Linked DNA regions of Homo sapiens. The protein of the gene in region 1 purifies or fractionates together with the protein of each later gene. This does not show direct contact. Each region holds a gene or a part of one and is shown in the gene's direction. Other genes may lie near its edges. The genes, in order: OR14J1 and KCNIP1.

Region 1 (3,925 bases):
TGTTAGACCTAAAACCAGAAAAACCCTAGAACAAAACCTAGGCAATACCATTCAGGACATAGGCATGGGCAAGGACTTCATGTCTAAAACACCAAAAGCAATGGCAACAAAAGCCAAAATTGATAAATGGAATCTAATTAAACTAAAGAGCTTCTGCACAGCAAAAGAAACCACCATCAGAGTGAACAGGCAACCTACAGAATGGGAGAAAATTTTTGCAACCTACTCATCTGACAAAGGGCTAATATCCAGAATCTACAATGAACTCAAACAAATTTACAAGAAAAAAACAACCCCATCAAAAAGTGGGCAAAGGATATGAACAGACACTTCTCAAAAGAAGACATTTATGGAGCCAAAAAACACATGAAAAAATGCTCATCATCACTGGCCATCAGAGAAATGCAAATCAAAACCACAATGAGATACCATCTCACACCAGTTAGAATGGCAATCATTAAAAAGTCAGGAAATAACAGGTGCTGGAGAGGATATGGAGAAACAGGAACACTTTTACACTGTTGGTGGGACTGTAAACTAGTTCAACCATTGTGGAAGTCAGTGTGGCAACTCCTCAGGGATCTAGAACTAGAAATACCATTTGACCCAGCCATCCCATTACTGGGTATATACCCAAAGGATTATAAATCATGCTGCTAGAAAGACACATGCACACATATGTTTATTGTGGCGCTATTCACAATAGCAAAGAGTTGGAACCAACCCAAATGTCCAACAATGATAGACTGGATTAAGAAAATGTGGCACATATACACCATGGAATACTATGCAGCCATAAAAAAATGATGAGTTCATGTCCTTTGTAGGGACATGGATGAAGCTGGAAACCATCATTCTCAGCAAACTATCACAAAGGACAAAAACCCAAACATCGCATGTTCTCACTCATAGGTGGGAATTGAACAATGAGATCACATGGACACAGGAAGGGGAACATCACACTCTGGGGCCTGTTGTGGGGTGGGGGGAGTGGGGAGGGATAGCATTAGGAGATATACCTAATGCTAAATGACTAGTTAATGGGTGCAGCACACCAACATGGCACATGTATACATATGTAACAAACCTGCACGTTGTGCACATGTATCCTAAAATTTAAAGTATAATTTAAAAAAATGCCTTTTCCATAATCACACATATTTAAGAATGGAATTCATTCACTTTTGAGTAAAAATTATTCATCTGGGGGATTGTTAAAATGAGGGCTGGATTATCAGTTTCAGAGTAATTTTAGAAAAGACACCATGTTTGAAGAAAGTTTAGCTCTCTAAGTCATGGTTTTATTCTGAGATTCTTTGATTCTACTATTATGTATGGGTTTATGTAAATAATTACTAAGTATTCCTTTTTTTTTTTACATAAGGCCAGTGCAATCATGCATGATTTTATTGGTGACCAGTTAAAATGAAACTGTTAATTAATGAAAAAAATCCTTTTTACTAGAAAAACCTGTGAACCTGTGTTACAGAAAACGAGTTATGTATAATATTCATTTTTTTAACCTGAAATGCATCGACTACAAGAGTTAGCTAAACCAAGATAATAATTAACTACTTCCCACTGAGGCAATTCCCTGAGGGAGAGGTCCATGAAATCCCCTGCTTTGAACTCATAGTTTTTATCTGAAACACCAACTTTCCTGCACAGGATTTTTGTCCCCAGTGCCTGGACAGCACTGGCTTCATTTCAAATACCCCTTAGTTAATAGGAAATTTAAATGTCCCTGGGCAGTTACATCCTGTTTGGTCCTATATAAAAGCGTTTCAGTCCTTTCCTTACATGGAAATTTCACTGACTGAAACACCAGCTTGATTCTAGAACAAAGATGCTCAGTCTCAGGATCAATTGAGATTTGTTTCTACCGAGAGATCCACTCTGGTGAGTAAAACTTCTTCAAATTTTATGGAATTTATCCAACATTTATGTAGCACCTGCTTAGTGCCAGCGACTATGCGAGTCTTCAAAGTTATAACTCTAAATAAGATACATAATTTCTCACTCCTTAACTAAGAACAGTTTAAATAAGCTGCGATATCTATGCAAATAAGGTAGTATAAATTATAAAAAAGTATATAAAGCATAAAAAAGTTAGTATAAATTATAAGGAATCTTAAATGAATGCAATCTGGGCTCCAAAGAGTGACAATTCTTCTTGGGTCGACAGTTAAACTCAGGTGAATTATAAATGGAAAGAGACAATGTAGCTGTGTTAAAAGATAGTTAAGTATTTGCCAAACAAATGAGGGGAGATTTTTTTTCTTTTTTTTTTCTTTTTTTTTTTTTTTTTTGAGACGAGTCTCGCTCTGTCACCCAGGCTGGAGTGCAGTGGCGCGACCTTGGCTCACTGTAACCTCCGCCTCCTGGGTTCAAACAATTCTCCTGCCTCAGCCTCCCTAGTAGCTGGGATTACAGGTGCCCACCACCGTGCCCGGCTAATTTTTGTATTTTTAGTAGAGATGGGGTTTCGCCATTTTGGCCAGGCTGGTTTTGAACTCCTGACCTCAGGTGATCTGCCCACCTCAGCCTCCCAAAGTGCTGGGATTACAGGTGTGAGCAACCGTGCTCAGCCATGAGGGGCAATTCTAATGGGAGGACTTCCAGACAGGAGGGATAGTGTGATTTAAGAAAAGAAACACAGCATGGTGATACAACCTGATTGATTTATTAAGAGTAATTAAGTCAGTCGCCATTATTAGACATGGAGATTGGCATGGGGTTAGAGAAGTCACAATGATAGATAATACTGGAATGGCAGTCAGGAAGCATTGTAAAGATATTGTTTGCCATCCTAAGCTTTTTGGGCATCATTGCATAATCAAGTCAATAAAGAGCTAAAAGCTAAATTAATGTTACAAGATGTGATCTGCATCACCATTTGTCCTGGCAACAGCATTGAAGTTGGATTAGAAATACATAAAACTGAAGAATAAAATATTGCCAGAGATAATGAAGGTTTGAACTAATCTGTACGTGTGACAGCAAGATGTAATAACTACAACAGATAGTAAGCAAATAAAATTTTGGTGTTTGATTGGATATACAGATTAAAGCAAAGTTGTGCCATTCTTTGAAATAGGTCACAGTGACAGGGAGATGTCTGGGAGAAGAGATGAGTCCTTATGGGAAAGACCCATTCAGGGACAGTGATGTGCCAACCGTGAAGCAGGATATGAGGACCTGCAACCCAGGGGACCTGCAACCCAGAAGACCTATGGTAGTGCTCGAAACAGCAGACTATTATTTTCTATTGTGTAGGAAAATAGTTAATCTGTCTTCTTTAAAAGGCACAGGAATATTTTTGAGTAAACAAAAGTACAGAAAGAAAGTGTCAGGACAAATTTTTGGAAACCATCAAATTTCAATAAATGTTAAAAGAAGACCCAGATAACGAGACTAAGAAAAAATATTCAGAGAGGAAATAGAAAACCAGAACTAAGTGGCATAGAGCCAATGGAAGTCAGCTGTTTTAGAAGAAAGAACTGTATAATAGTGTCATATATTTGAGAAACAAAATTTAAAATAAAAACAAAATAGAAAGAGTGCATTGAATTTACCGTTGTGATAGTTATTTGTGGATTTGCTGGAGCTGTTTGTGAGGACTCATGAAGCAAGAATGATTAACATGGTTCAAGAATTGAACCAAATGTGCCAGGGCACAGAATGATACCCTATTCTGCTCATAAAGCATGGCTGTAAAGAGAAGGGACATTATAAGTAAGTCCTAAGTGTGGAGTGAAGACTTTTCTTTTTCTTTAAAATGGATGAGTCTTAAGATTATCTCTATCTATCTATCTATCTATCTATCTATCTATCTATCTATCTATCATCTATCTATCTCTAATCTATCATCTATCAACAGAGCATAGTGAAACAATCTGGTTCATTAAGAGTAATCTCAGTAAAT
Region 2 (3,825 bases), on another chromosome or scaffold:
GAGCTGATGTTCCCATTCATCAGGCAGGGAAGGAACAGTTTTTAGAAAAGAGAGAGAGAGCCTAAGAGTCCTAGGGCCTTCAGAGAAACATCTCTTTAAATGCTTCCCCTTCCTCCGGGTAGTATTTTAAATAGGTCACCTTCTGGAAGTAGTGGTAGTCAGTTGGGATATTGCTAGCTTCCCGTACCCCAGCCATGGGAGTAGTACTTTGGATTAAATCTTGTTATTCAAGGCCAGACTAAAAGCCTCATTGGTGCGGTGGGGGGAAGTAGGAACCACATTCCACTCAAATCAGGAAGCTAGAAGTAGGATTGCATTATGGCTATGAGCACCGCGTTAAAATAAGAGTCTTGGGATTGAACTCCCTTTCATTGGTTCATAGCTGAGCCTTTCCAGGCCTCAGTTTCCTCTTCTATAAAATGGGGACAGTGGGCCAGGTATGGTGGCTCACATCTGTAATCCCAGCAGTTTGGAAGGTCAAGGTGGACAGATCACGAGGTCAGGAGTTCAAGACCAGCCTGGCCAATATGGTGAAACCCCATCTCTACTAAAAATACAAAAATTAGCCGGGCATGGTGGCATGCTCCTGTAATCCCAGTCACTCAGGAGGCTGAGGCAGGAGAATCGCTTGAACCGAGGAGACGGAGGTTGCAGTGAGCCAAGACTGCACCATTGCACTCCAGCCTGGATGACAGAGCGAGACTCCGTCTCAAAAAAAATAAAAATTAAAAAATGGGGACAATGACAGTGTCTCCCTATAGGGCCACGTGAGGGCCAAGAAGGAATTGAACATGGTGCTGCACACCAGGTGAGTTGGCAGTGCTGGCTTTGCTGCTGCCTTTTGTCCCATCTCAGGACAGGCCCCTTCCTTCTGCCTTGCTCCACTTGGATGATGACGGTGTTACCCTTGGTAATCTCCCCATCCCTTTGAGCTGTGGCCTCTGATTCCAGCCCTCTGAGATCCCGAGCCACCATATCCATGGTCACTGGCATTCTAAGCAGTTTCTCTGGTGATTCCTAAGGGAAGCTGTCAACTTTAGATGGTAAAAGCAATTCCCAACAGTGAGGTATGAAAATGCAGGTCACCCGCCAGGAAGGATAATAATACTAGCTCAAATGACTCTGGCCTCCACCCAGTGCCAGGCACCTTGCTCGGCTCTTTCCTGTGTTATTTTATTAACCCCAACCCTGGAGGACAAGATGCTATTACAGTTCTCATTTTGCAGTTGAGGAACCTGAGGCTCTAAAAAGGGAAGTGCCTTACTAAGGGTCATAGAGCTTGGGAATCGCAGAGCCTGGTTCTGGTTGATCCCAGACCCTGAGCTTCTAACTGCCATACTAACCTCCTCTCCTCCTGGCTTTGCCTCTGGAACCTTAGGGACCTGAGTAGAAAAACAGTCAAAACGGGTGCATGGATGTTGGGGAGAAGGCATTCAAGGATAGACTGAAGCACCTCATTAGCCACACGGAACAACTGAGCTACGTGCAGGCCCTGAGCAAAATGCTTTTAGCCCCATCCCAACCCCGCCTCCCCCTAGATCTGTTTCCATTTCATCTGACACTGTGGAAGCCTGAATATGAAATGATTGGGGGCAGAAGGCCAATTAGCAAATTCATTAATAGGATTAAACATCTCTCCTCTGCTCTAATCATTTATGTGAACTAAAATTTTCTCTCTTTGTTATAGCCATCATTGCCTGTCAGTGAAGATAGAGTGTTTAAATATCTTCCAAGTATGTTAGAATTGCAAACGTTCAGAACCAGGGACCAGGATCAGAGTTTTCACACGGTCCAGGTGGGCAAGGAGATCAGTCGGTTTACAAGTGGTTATCACTGCTAAGAAAAAAACACAAGAACTTGCTAGTACATTTGCAAGTACCTTACTGCTCATCTCCTTTCTCTCCTTAGCCACATGTTGGCCCAAATCACCTGCGTATGTTATACGGTTGTTATGAGCATACACTCCTGGTTAGGCAGACCTAGAATTCAAATCCTGGCTCTGCAACTCATTAGCTGTGTGACATTGAGCAGGTTACCTCGCTTCTGTGAACTTTCATCTCTACATAATCTAGAAAATGAAAGTATTGTTGATAATTCCCTCCCAGGTTGTTATGAGGATTAAATGCAGTCATGCATGTAAGATGCAGCGGTCAGCACTCAGAATGCGCTAAAGGTAAATTGTTACTATCTGGGTCTACTCCACTTAAAGTGTGCTCCTCCAACCAACAGCCTCAGCATCAGTTGGGAGCTTGTTAGAAATACAGAGTCCCGGCCAGGCGCGGTGGCTCACGCCTGTAATCCCAGCACTTTGGGAGGCCGAGGCTGGCGGATCATGAGGTCAGGAGATAGAGACCATCCCGGCTAACACGGTGAAACCCCGTCTCTACTAAAAATACAAAAAAATTAGCCAGGCGTGGTGGCGGGCGCGTGTAGTCCCAGCTACTCGGGAGGTTGAGGCAGGAGAATGGCGTGAACCCAGGAGGTGGAGCTTGCAGTGAGCCGAGATCGCGCCACTGCACTCCAGCCTGGGCGACAGAGCGAGACTCCATCTTGGAAAAAAAAAAAAAACCTCAACTCAGTGAGACCTACCCAGTCAGAACCTGCATTTTAACAAGATCACCAGATGGTTTATATGCCCACTGGAGTCTGAGGAATACTGGCCTAAAGTACAGATTATGGAACTATGTGTATTGTATTACACAAAATTATATATCAAGCCAGAAGAGGCTTTTGCTAAGACTTCTGATTTAAGCCTCATTTTACAAATAAGAAAATAGAATCCAGAGAAGGTGAGTGGTTTGCCCACAATCACACAGCTCAAGTGTTAGGCCTGACATCCGAACCCCAGCCCTGGTCATCTCATATAAATTGTTAAGAAGTCAGATTTCCAGATTTGCATTTCTGCAATCAAGCTTGTCTGTTTTTCTTTCTCTCTCTTTCTTTTTAACAACAAAGAAGTGCAGGATGATGTACGCCCATTAAGTTTTAGTTTACTCATTTTAAATGTTATTCCAGCCAACAGAGATCCTGAATCTTGACTCCACCAGCCATCATCTTAGCTGTACCTCCAAGTTTTCTGCTACCTGAAGAAATGATAAGGAGGCATTCTAGGTCTTTATCTAAGTTGCTTCTAAGAACATGGGCCAGAACAGGGTGCAGGACAGAGCCATGTGGACTGCAACTAGAGACTTGCCTGCATAATGGATTTCACTGATAATGTTCAGAATCCCAGAGCAGGATGGCAGCCTGGTTTACATACAGAGCCTTTGTGTGGGATTTGAAGCCAGAAAATGTGACTAAAGTAGGAGTCTAAACAGACACAGGTAGGGCCTGGGGAATGAAAGTCAAATGCCTTTTCCAGGGGGTCTAGTAGGACCTCTCTGTTGGTGGGGATCCCCCAAAAAAGTAATCTTTTTATTTTTGTAGGAGTCCTGTAATGGTTTCATTATTATTCTCACTTTGCAGAGTAGGAAACGTAGATGCAGGGAGGTTCTTGATTGGCTAGTGATTAGTAAGCAAGGACTTGAAGTGGATCTGATTGCGAGGCACTCCACCACCTGGGCTCCTGCCTGCAGCTGGAGGGCATATCCAGGACAAGCAAGCCTCTGAGCCCCAGGAAGAGGCTGAGCAGTTACAGCTAGTTTCCCAACTCCCAGGAACTGAAAATGACAGCCTCCTCTTGGCCCCATCAGCTCCTCACCCATGCCAACCCTGGACCCAGAGTGAGGGATGTTCTGGTGGAGACCATGAAGCTCCCAGCTGCCTGGGGGAAGCTGGCACATTTGCATCCGTGTGGCTGAGGCTGCACTTTCTCTCCATCTCTGG

The links.
Region 2: the proteins of OR14J1 (region 1) and KCNIP1 purify together in Homo sapiens (affinity purification with mass spectrometry; one large-scale study listed by BioGRID and IntAct). This does not show direct contact.

The regions. Positions count from the first base shown.
Region 1 is NC_000006.12:29,299,889-29,303,813, forward strand, and holds the start of OR14J1 (olfactory receptor 14J1), read left to right. Parts: upstream 1-1,812; 5' UTR 1,813-1,899; intron 1,900-3,925. UniProt on the Homo sapiens protein: Odorant receptor.
Region 2 is NC_000005.10:170,510,498-170,514,322, forward strand, and holds part of KCNIP1 (A-type potassium channel modulatory protein KCNIP1), read left to right. Parts: intron 1-3,825. UniProt on the Homo sapiens protein: Regulatory subunit of Kv4/D (Shal)-type voltage-gated rapidly inactivating A-type potassium channels. Regulates channel density, inactivation kinetics and rate of recovery from inactivation in a calcium-dependent and isoform-specific manner.